2 linked regions of the Homo sapiens genome follow. The protein of the gene in region 2 purifies or fractionates together with the protein of the main gene of each other region. This does not show direct contact. Each region holds a gene or a part of one and is shown on either strand. Other genes may lie near its edges.

Region 1 (3,500 bases), on a different chromosome or scaffold from region 2:
GTGTTTCTACTTCTGATATATTATCTGGCTCTAAACTAAAGATTTTTCTGGTAATTTTCTGATTTTAAAACTTTTATCTAGTTTAAGAATTTTTTTTAACACTTCTCACTCAGTAAACAGAAAAACCTATAAATCTGATGGGAGAAAGATTTGGAATTCATTTTATTGTATAGCTCCATTTTCCCTAATGTAGATAATAGCCAGACATCAGTATTATAAAGTATTTATAGATATTTTAAAGAGGAAGAAAAAGATGTGTGTTTTTTTTTTCAGATGCAAATTGTATTCATATGGTAGACAATGGGATTGTAGAAAAACTTATGGATTTACTGGACAGACATGTAGAAGATGGAAATGTAACAGTACAGCATGCAGCACTAAGTGCCCTCAGAAACCTGGCCATTCCAGGTAAGACTTAAGAATAGAAGGCAGCTGTGTACAAAATAAAATCCATCATTTGGGGAAGCTATTAACTGTATGTGATTTGTGAACCTGCTCTGATGAAGAAAATTTAAAAAAAAATAGTCTTCACATTGTTCACATTTTTTCATGCTAATAAATGGAGATCATATGTTAAATAAGTTTTGTGAGACTGTACAAGAATAATCTTTGCCTTCATTCAGATATCCTGTTACCTTTTGCGAACTGTTAGATTTTCATCATGTTTTATAGTTAAGCTTTTTTAAGTTTGAGATGGGGTCTCACTCTGTCAGCCAGGCTAGAGTGCAGTGACGCAGTCCTGGCTCACCACAGCCTCTACCTTCTGAGCTCAAGTTATCCTCCCACCTCAGCCTCCTGAGGAACAGGGACTACAGGCATGTGCCACCATGCCCAGCTGATTTTTTTTTTTTGTAGAAACAGGATCTCACTATGTTGCCTAGGCTGGTCTTGAACTCCTGGGCTCAAGCAGTCCACCCACCTTTGCCTCCTAAAGTGCTGGGATTACAGGTGAGAGCTACTGCACCAGGCCTTAGGCATCTTTAGTTGAGGTAGAATAATGACATCAATTAACAGAGTCCACTCAAGAATGACTTTCAGTTGTTGTTTTTCTATAAGCAGATGTACAATTTTTTTAAAATAGCCTTAATGTGCCTTTGGAAGTCATGAAATCACTGTATTATGGAAAATACAACAAAAGATAGTTAAAACTATTCTTTTATCCTACTTTCTAAAAATAAATTTCTGATTAGATGAAATAGTACAATTACATGATGATCCAATCCATTTGAATTCATTTGGTTTACATAGGATAGTAACATTTATTAATGTCTATAACATTTATATTAACACAGTTGGATCAAAAACGGAATTGTGCTTTTTGTTGTAAGAGGGTAACATTTTCAGATTTCCTTTACAAACTATGTAAGTAAGTGTTTTGGATTGGATCTAAAAAGCCATGATACTGTCATAAAAATTATTATATTGTCTGTTATCCGCTTATACACAAATAGGATACGGACACACACATAAACAACTGAATTCCATTCTTAAAATTGACAAAAAAGTGACAAGATTGTTTCTAAATGGAAAAATAAAACATGGATCTTAAAGATACTTAATAAACCTGTATTGAATTGAATGTTTATCAACAGGAATGCTAATACCATTTTAACCATAGTCTCTCTTTTTCTCCAGTTATAAATAAAGCAAAGATGTTATCAGCTGGGGTCACAGAGGCAGTTTTGAAATTTCTTAAATCTGAAATGCCTCCTGTTCAGTTCAAACTTCTGGGAACATTAAGAATGTTAATAGATGCACAAGGTAAAAGAAATGTTTTCCCCAACTTGCATTTTTCATATGATAGTCTTAATGTGCCTCTAGTTGAAAAAGGACTTGTTTTTAGCTTTTAGGATTATGTAATCATAAAAAATAGCAAATAAAAGATTTAAAAGTTGGTTTTGGAACTCCATTTGTTAATTTTTATGCTTGTTATAATTATTTATTTATACATATTATTTATTTATTTATTTATTTATTTATTTGTTTATTTATTTATTTTTGAGACAGAGTCTTGTTCTGTCACCCAGGCTGGAGTGCAGTGGTGCGACCTCAGCTCACCGCAACTTCCGCCTCCTGGGTTCAAGCAATTTTCCTGCCTCAGCCTCCTGAGTAGCTAGGATTACAGGCATGCTCCACAACTCCTGGCTAATTGTTTTGGAATTTCACTAGACATGGGGCTTGTTGCTCAGGCTGCTCTTGAACTCCTGGCCTCAAGCGATCCACCCACTTCAGCCTCCCAAAGTGCTGGGATTACAGGTGTGAGCCACCATGTCCAGCCTATAATTGACTTTAAATAGAAATTATACCATATCTCTCCTTATTAGTACTTATAGTCCTGGTTTTAGGTTGCTTTATTCATCAGTTTCGGCAGGGGGTGTTGTGTTTTGGCATTCTATACCCATTTTTACCTTGGCTTTGAAATCAAATTTCATTATTGTGACAGTCAAAAATTTTTTAAATTTGTCTTCCAGACAGGGAGAGCATTTTTCTGTTTGCAGAAACAGCAGTCAGAACCACTCCTAGGAATGAATTATGTTTATTTACTTATTTCTAAATTTTAAACCCTTTTCTATATTGATTGCATAGAGTCTTTCTAAGAACCCTGCATTATAGTCCGCCAGAGCACTAACAGACTAGCAGGCTTAACCAAAAGAGTATGAAGTCATTTGTTGTTGTATTTTCTATAAAATTTCACAGTGTTACAGAAGAAGGCAAATAGCCCATCACATAAGGAATATTTGCAGTTCTAGCTTTAATGAAATTGTCGTGCTGTGTTTTTTTAGACGTCCTTCACACTCTCAAATCTGTACGAATTATTTCAACTGATTGTCTGTTAGTGATTCATTCCTTGGTTTGCCTTCTTTCCTATAGCAGAAGCTGCTGAACAATTGGGAAAGAATGTTAAGTTAGTGGAGCGTTTGGTGGAATGGTGTGAAGCCAAAGATCATGCTGGTGTGATGGGGGAGTCAAACAGACTGCTGTCTGCCCTTATACGACACAGTAAATCAAAAGTAAGTTCCAGAGGAAACTGTTCACTAGAAAACTTCAGAGTGTCTTTTTCAGAAACCCAGCATTGTAGGTCCTAACAACTGGGATAATATTTACCTGAAAGTATTGTGAAGATTCAGTGAGATCATGTATATAATGTGCTTAGCTGATACATGGGATATAGGAAACACTCGGTAAATGGGGGTTGCTGTTGTTGCTGCTGCTATTGTTGTTATTACTTTTACCACCACCGTTATCAGCATCAGTGTCAAACATTCTTTGTGCCAGGCATTGACCATGCAGCCTACTGATATTTAGAAATTAAATGGTACCTAGATAGTATATGATGTCCAGAGCTCACAGAGTTAGAAAAAAATCCATTCTTGTGGCTGGCTGTGCCGCTGTCTGGCACATGGTAGATAACCAATAAATGAACAAATGAGCTATTTTAAAGATCACAATAGTGAGTACCCAGGCCAGCAGTTCAGCAGCTGATTTAGTATCTAGATTAT
Region 2 (6,235 bases):
GCAAAAATGCATTGAGTGCCTACTGTGGGTCAAGTACTAGGCTGGATCTTTTACATGTGCTATTTCTTTAATCCTCACAGCAATTCTCTAACTATTTTTTAATGCCCATTTTACAGATGAGGAAACAGTAGCTCAGAGAGGTTAGCTGACTGGCTCAAGGTTGCCAATAAGGAGCAGAGCCAGGTAGGATTCAAACCCAGCTCTGACTGACACCGAAACGTTCCTTTTTCCAATATACCATGATGCAGCGATGAAAACAACAGTTGTTTTCTCATACGGTTAAAAAACTGGTTCAGAAGCCAGCACCACTAGAGAATTTCTCGAATGTCCTGCCCAGGTTTTCTGGAAGAGAACACTGAGTGACCATCTTGAAGAATAATACCTATTTGTTTTTGAGTTTTTTTTTTTTTTAGACAGAGTTTCCCTCTGTCGCCCAGGCTGGAGTGCAGTGGCACGACCTTGGCTCACTGCAATCTCCGCCTCCCGGGTTCAAGCAGTTCTCCTGCCTCAGCCTCCCTAGAAGCTGGGATTACAGGCACACACCACTATGCCCAGCTAATTTTTGTATTTTTAGAGACGGAGTTTCACCATGTTGGCCAGGCTGGTCATTAACTCCTGACCTCAGGTGATCCACCCACCTCAGCCTCCCAAAGTGCTGAGATTACAGGCATTAGCCACCGCACCCGGCCCAAGAATAATACCTGTTTGGATGTGGATGTCTTGCTATGTTTATTTTTATTTTTTAAAGTTTTTTCACACCTCATATTTTAGGGTAAATCAGCCTCTCTTAGTTCTGTGAATTAGGCCAACCCCCCAGTTGTCTGGGGTGGGCTGTGGAAGGGGTATTTCTGACACTTAAAACATTTTCCCCCATGGGCTGGGTCATCCTGGCGGCTTCTCCCTTCTGTCCCCAGACATGCAGTCCTGGTCAGTGCCCACCCACGGGGTGGGTCCCAGGAGAGCACTCCAGATGGGGCACAGGCAGCAGAAGGTACGGGGAGTAGTTTCTTACCCAAGTTGGGGTCATATTCACTGATAAACCTCTTGGTCAGAAACTTCACGGTCAGGGCTGCAAGAAGCAGAAAGAGGTTGGCTCCATCTCCGCGGCCATGTCTAGCTGCTGGCCCCTCGTTTAAGGGAGGCCTTATCTAACCTCTGTGATCCCCGGCTGACACCAAGCTCAGCTCTCCCAGAGAATGAAGCTAGGGAACTGAGGAATTGGTTTGAAAGGCTCAGAAGGAAACCAGAACTACGGGGAGCCAAGTGCCTCTAATTGCACCGTGGGAATTTTTTTTAATGGCAAGGAAAGCAATGAGTGGCAAGCCTAAGGGGTGTTTGGAAGGTATGAACTCAGGGGTCAGGACCCATGCAACCATTACCCTAGAGTCAGCCTGGTGAAACCTCAACTGAAGGGAGGTGTCGCCCACCCCGGACAAGTCACAGAGATTCTGAAGTGTGGGGCTATTTACTCCAGGCTTTAGCTACAAGCCAAAAACACAGGAAGAGCAGAGTTGATTGCAGTGGTTGATCTTTGGGAAGGGTATAAATCCCCAAGTGCCTGGGCTTTCCAGGTAAGGTCCAGGTGAGGTCTGTGTCCCGAAGAAACACACTCTGGTCCTGGTCTCCCACATCGCAAGTCTTGGCTTTCTCTGGGGCCTCTACACTCATCATGGATATCTCAGCAGAATGTAAAACTCAAGAATTAAGCTCTCTTTGGTTCAGAGTGTAGCCATATAAAGCAAAGACCAGCCAACTACTATACTGGACCCTCAAAAAGTAATGTTCGCTACTGCTTGTTTGGAAAGAAAGAAAAGAAAAGAGAAGAGAAGAGAAGAGTAGAGAAGAGAAGAGAAGAGAAGAGTAGAGAAGAGAGAGAATAAAAGAAAGAGAAGGAAAGAGAAAGAAAGAAGAAAGAGAGAGAAAGAAGAAAGAAAAAAAAGAAAGAAGAAGAGAGGGATGAAGGGAAGGAGGGAGGGAGGGAAAAGAGAAAGAGAAAAAGGAAGGAAGAAAAGAGAAAGAAACAAAGACAGAAAGATAGAAAGAAAGAAAGAAAAAGAAAAAAGAAAGAAAGAAAAGTAATGGGATGCCTGTAATTCCAGTGCTTTGGGATTGAGACCAGCCTGGGCAATGCAGTGACACTGTTATCTCTAAAAAAATTGAAAAATTAACCAGGCATGGTGGTATGCCTGTAGTCCTAGCTACTCAGGAGGCTGAGAGGGAAGATCACTTGAGCTCAGGAGTTTGAGGCTATAGTGAGTCATGATCGCGCCATTGTACTCCAGCCTGAGTGACAGAGACACTGTCTTAAAAAAAAAAAAGTGACATTGTGAATAAAATCCTTAAAATTCTTTCCTAGGATTCCTAACGGTGTCAGTTTGCAAACTAATACCCAGGGAATACATATTTTAAAATTTAAATTCTTTCTTTTATGTAGTCACTGGCTAAACGGTACCGGTTACAGAGCTACGGATAACAATCTGATTTTCAAAGGGCAAATCTTTCAAAGGAAGAGGGTAATCCCTTCTGTAGGAAAACCAGATTCAGAGTCCCCTCTCTGGGGGTGGGGCTGGCTTCAAAATCAGAGAGTAGGCCCCCAGTGAGTCTTACAGAACACTCTGGGGAGGAAACCCACAGCCAGCTGAGCTTGGGTTGGCCATCACTAACGGCTAAAACTGGAAAAACAGCCAGTGGAGGACCCCTTCTGCCCTCCCTCCTTCAGCCAGCCAGGAGTGGCATAGTTCAGTGTTGACACAAATTATCTCAATGGAAGCCCAAGATCTTGGCTCATCAAGGACAATCCCATGCACCTGGAACCATAACCCAATGTGTTTCCAGAAAGTTGAGAGGGGTCTGGCTTGAAACGAACACATTTGATAAGAATGCACAACTTGTCCCAGAATCCCAGGGAATGGGGGTGGGAGTGGGGGAGTGGACCTTCCCTGAGAAATCTCAACAGCTAGTGACTTCACCAGCTCCCTTCTACGGGGAGGGGGTGTGGAGGGGGAGGGGTTGGACGGGAAGTCTTCCCCCAAGCCTAATCAGGGAGTAGCAAGGCTGCGACTAAGCTCAAAGAGGCGCCTTGGGTAGGGGGATCAGTGCCCAACAGGTCCCTTTGAAGCCAGTCGCCAGGACTGACTGCTGGCCCCAGGGTAGGTCATAGGGGTGGGGGTTGGAAGGTTGGTGGCAGGGGAGACCGACCAGTAAAGGACTCCGAGACACACAAGAGAGAGGGGAGAGACAGCAGGGGTCACTGATACGGAGGACAGAGACAGTGGGAAGACACAAAGGGAAGAGGCAGGCAGGGAACAGAAGACAGAGATGGTGGAGCTGAGCACAAAGCCGAGAGAAGAGAAAGCCCGGCAACAGGGAAACTGAGGCAAAGAAAATCACGGTGTCTTGTGCGACCCTCCTGGGTGAAGGAAGCTCCCCAAGCCAGTGGAAGAACCTGCCCCCAAGAGCACAGCCCACTGTCCCCCCACCCACGCCCAGCTCCGCACTTGGCGGCTCAGGCTCCCCGGCGCCACTCACCAGACTTGCCAGCCCCGCGGCGCCCCAGGATGGCCAGGTTGACCTCGAGGGGCGCGCTCTGAGGCCCGCTGCCCGCGCGGGGTTTTCCAAACACCGAGGACATGGCGACGCCCTGGACGGCCACGCAGGTCTGCGGCCGGTGGGCCCCGCGCAGTGCGCCCGCCCGTCGGGGCCCAGGGGAGCGGGATGCAGGCTTCCCTGGAGCGCGCGGCCCCGGACCCGTCGGCGTCCGCGCCCTCGGCCCCGCGTCCAGCGGGCTGCCACCCCGCGGGGAGGAGGGGCCGGTGGAGCCTGGCGGGCGGGGCCACCCCAAGCGCCACCAAATTCCTTGTAAGGGCTGCGGAGCCCCCCGCGGGGCGCGCTCAGCCGGCTCCTGGAGCAGGGAGGGAGCTCCTGCCGGCCGCGCCCCCACCGCCGGGCTGGGCCTCGAGGACCCTGCCGTCACCCTCCCGAGCGCCCCCAAACCCGGCCGGGAAGGAGCAGAGAAGGAGCCCCAGGGCTAGGGGGAGAGAGGGGAAGGATGTTTGCACTCTTCCCTGAACCTCCCACTCAATCTCTTTTCACCAGCAAGAAAATCCACCCCTCCCTTTGTTCTACCAAGCCAGCCCCGCCTCCTCCTCCAGGAAGCTTCCTGGGTTCAATTCCAAGCCTTGCCCTTTCTTTAGCTCAGCCTTGGCACTCTATATCCCCAATCACATTATTCTGCCCTTTGCTGTGGAGACTCTAGAGGCCTCACTGCAGAACCCATTCGGAACCCAGGCTTCTGGGAGAGGGGGCGGGGCGGAGAGAACCCCTCACTAAGATTTCAGGGCCAATATGGGTTCAGCTTCAAGAAACCTAATCCATTCTGAATTACTGTCTCTCCCTAATGGGAGCTAATGAGTTGCATGTGTTTGTGGCCTGTTGTGTAAATGGGGTGTTTGTTCTAAAACCTGGCACTGCCTCTTGCCTACAGCAATTCTGGGATTGGTGGTGAGCCTGGCAGGGGTCCCCTGGTCATTCCCCTTGGGACTCAGGGTAAATCTGGTCATACCAAAGACAGGGCAAAGGGCCCACACCACGAACCTGGACACTTAGGATCTAGTGCTAGCTCCTGCCCTAGAGTAATCTTGGGCAAGTCACCTTGCTTCTTTGGGCTTCGGTGTCCCCATATATAAATACTGAAGGAAGGGGAAAATGAAGCAAAATAGAGAGTGACAGAATCAGCCCTGGGCTCCAGGCCTGCGTACATTCTAGAACCCTGTGAGGCATCTCTTCTGGAGTACGCTCCAGGTTAGAGCAGGGAAAGGCATGGGAGCCTCAGAGACCTCTCACGGCAGCCCTTCTCCTTCCCCTTCCCGCAGATGGTTAACTCATCTACCCACCCACCCACAGAGGAACCATGGAAAACCAGGTGTGCAGGCAGGGCCCAGGGTCAGAGCTGGATGGTAATAACGACTCTTCAAAGAAGAACAATTATTTTCCTGGCCAGGACATGAATATTGACTCAGCCTAGTTGTGTTTTGGGGAAATCATGGTAAACCAGCTGTGTTATTAAGGTAGTGGGTGGAATTTGTTTAGATTACACTCTCAGGCCAGAATTAGTCACACAGCTAATGGCCAAGGGTTTTCCTTTGAGTTGTAGGAGTTGAGAAAGTGGGAGCCAAGTTCCAGTCACATCCCTGGGCTGGCCCCATTCTGTGAAGACAGACTGGTTCCAGATGGGGCCTTTGGGGATAGAACCAATCTCAATGGACAACTGCTGGAGGCAGGGCTAACTGTGGGCCTGCACGGGCCCAACTGCATGTAAACTTAAGCTCTGCTACTTCTCAGCTTGTGTGATGCTGGGATGTTACTTGACCTCTATGTGGTCTGTTTCCTCATCTTTAAAACTTGACCAACCAGGAGATGGGAGCTGCAAGATTCTAGCTCAGTCTGAGGGTGAACTCTGTAACCATCTGACTGTCCATAGTTAGAAGGGACTGTCTTTGGTGGAACTCAACCCCTCTCCCCTGACACTGGCAGCAACCAAGGGAGTGACCACGTCAAGGAAGTGTTAGAGAAGAGACGCCTTCATGACTCGAATGTTGCAGTAAGATGACCCTTAATTCTCTTCCAGTTCAGAGATTATTTGAGCTGGTGGCCACCTGGTTACTGGGGCCCTCAACTGTGACAGCTCATTGCTCAAAGTCTGCCCCTTCTCTGAGGCTTGGGAGGAAAACAGTGCCCACCTCATGGCTGCGACCTATCCTTTTCTCCATCCCCAGTTTCCTCACCCAGGGGCTGCTACTGTCAGACCCTGGAATAAACTACTTTGCCCTTCTGGGTCTCTGTTCCTCATCTTCAAAATAGGGACAAACCTGGGCAACATGGTGAAACCCTGTCTCTACAGACGCATATAAAAAAATTAGCTGGGTATGTTGGCATGCAACTATAGTCCCAGCTACATGGGAGGCCAAGGTGGGAAGATAGCTTCAGCCCAGGAGATGGAGGCTGCAATAAGCTGTATTTGTGCCACTGCACTCCTGCCTGGGTGACAGAGTGAGACCTTGTCTCAAAATAAAATAAAACAGGGACAATATCAATAAGTATATTAGATAACATGTGTCCTATCCAGAGCTTGGCCCATGGCCCAAGGAAGTGGAGGTTAGTTCTGTCTACTCCTCTGGATATAAATAGCACACATTTCTCATCCACCTACAAAGAAGTCATAACCGTTTAGTGACCA

Evidence for each region.
Region 1: the proteins of RASL12 (region 2) and RAP1GDS1 purify together in Homo sapiens (affinity purification with mass spectrometry; one large-scale study listed by BioGRID and IntAct). This does not show direct contact.

The regions. Positions count from the first base shown.
Region 1 is NC_000004.12:98,418,384-98,421,883, forward strand, and holds part of RAP1GDS1 (rap1 GTPase-GDP dissociation stimulator 1), read left to right. Parts: intron 1-273; coding exon 274-408; intron 409-1,635; coding exon 1,636-1,761; intron 1,762-2,871; coding exon 2,872-3,011; intron 3,012-3,500. UniProt on the Homo sapiens protein: Acts as a GEF (guanine nucleotide exchange factor) for the Rho family of small GTP-binding proteins (G proteins) that stimulates the dissociation of GDP to enable subsequent binding of GTP.
Region 2 is NC_000015.10:65,064,205-65,070,439, forward strand, and holds the start of RASL12 (ras-like protein family member 12), read right to left. Parts: upstream 3,788-6,235; 5' UTR 3,632-3,787; coding exon 3,529-3,631; intron 1,070-3,528; coding exon 1,013-1,069; intron 1-1,012.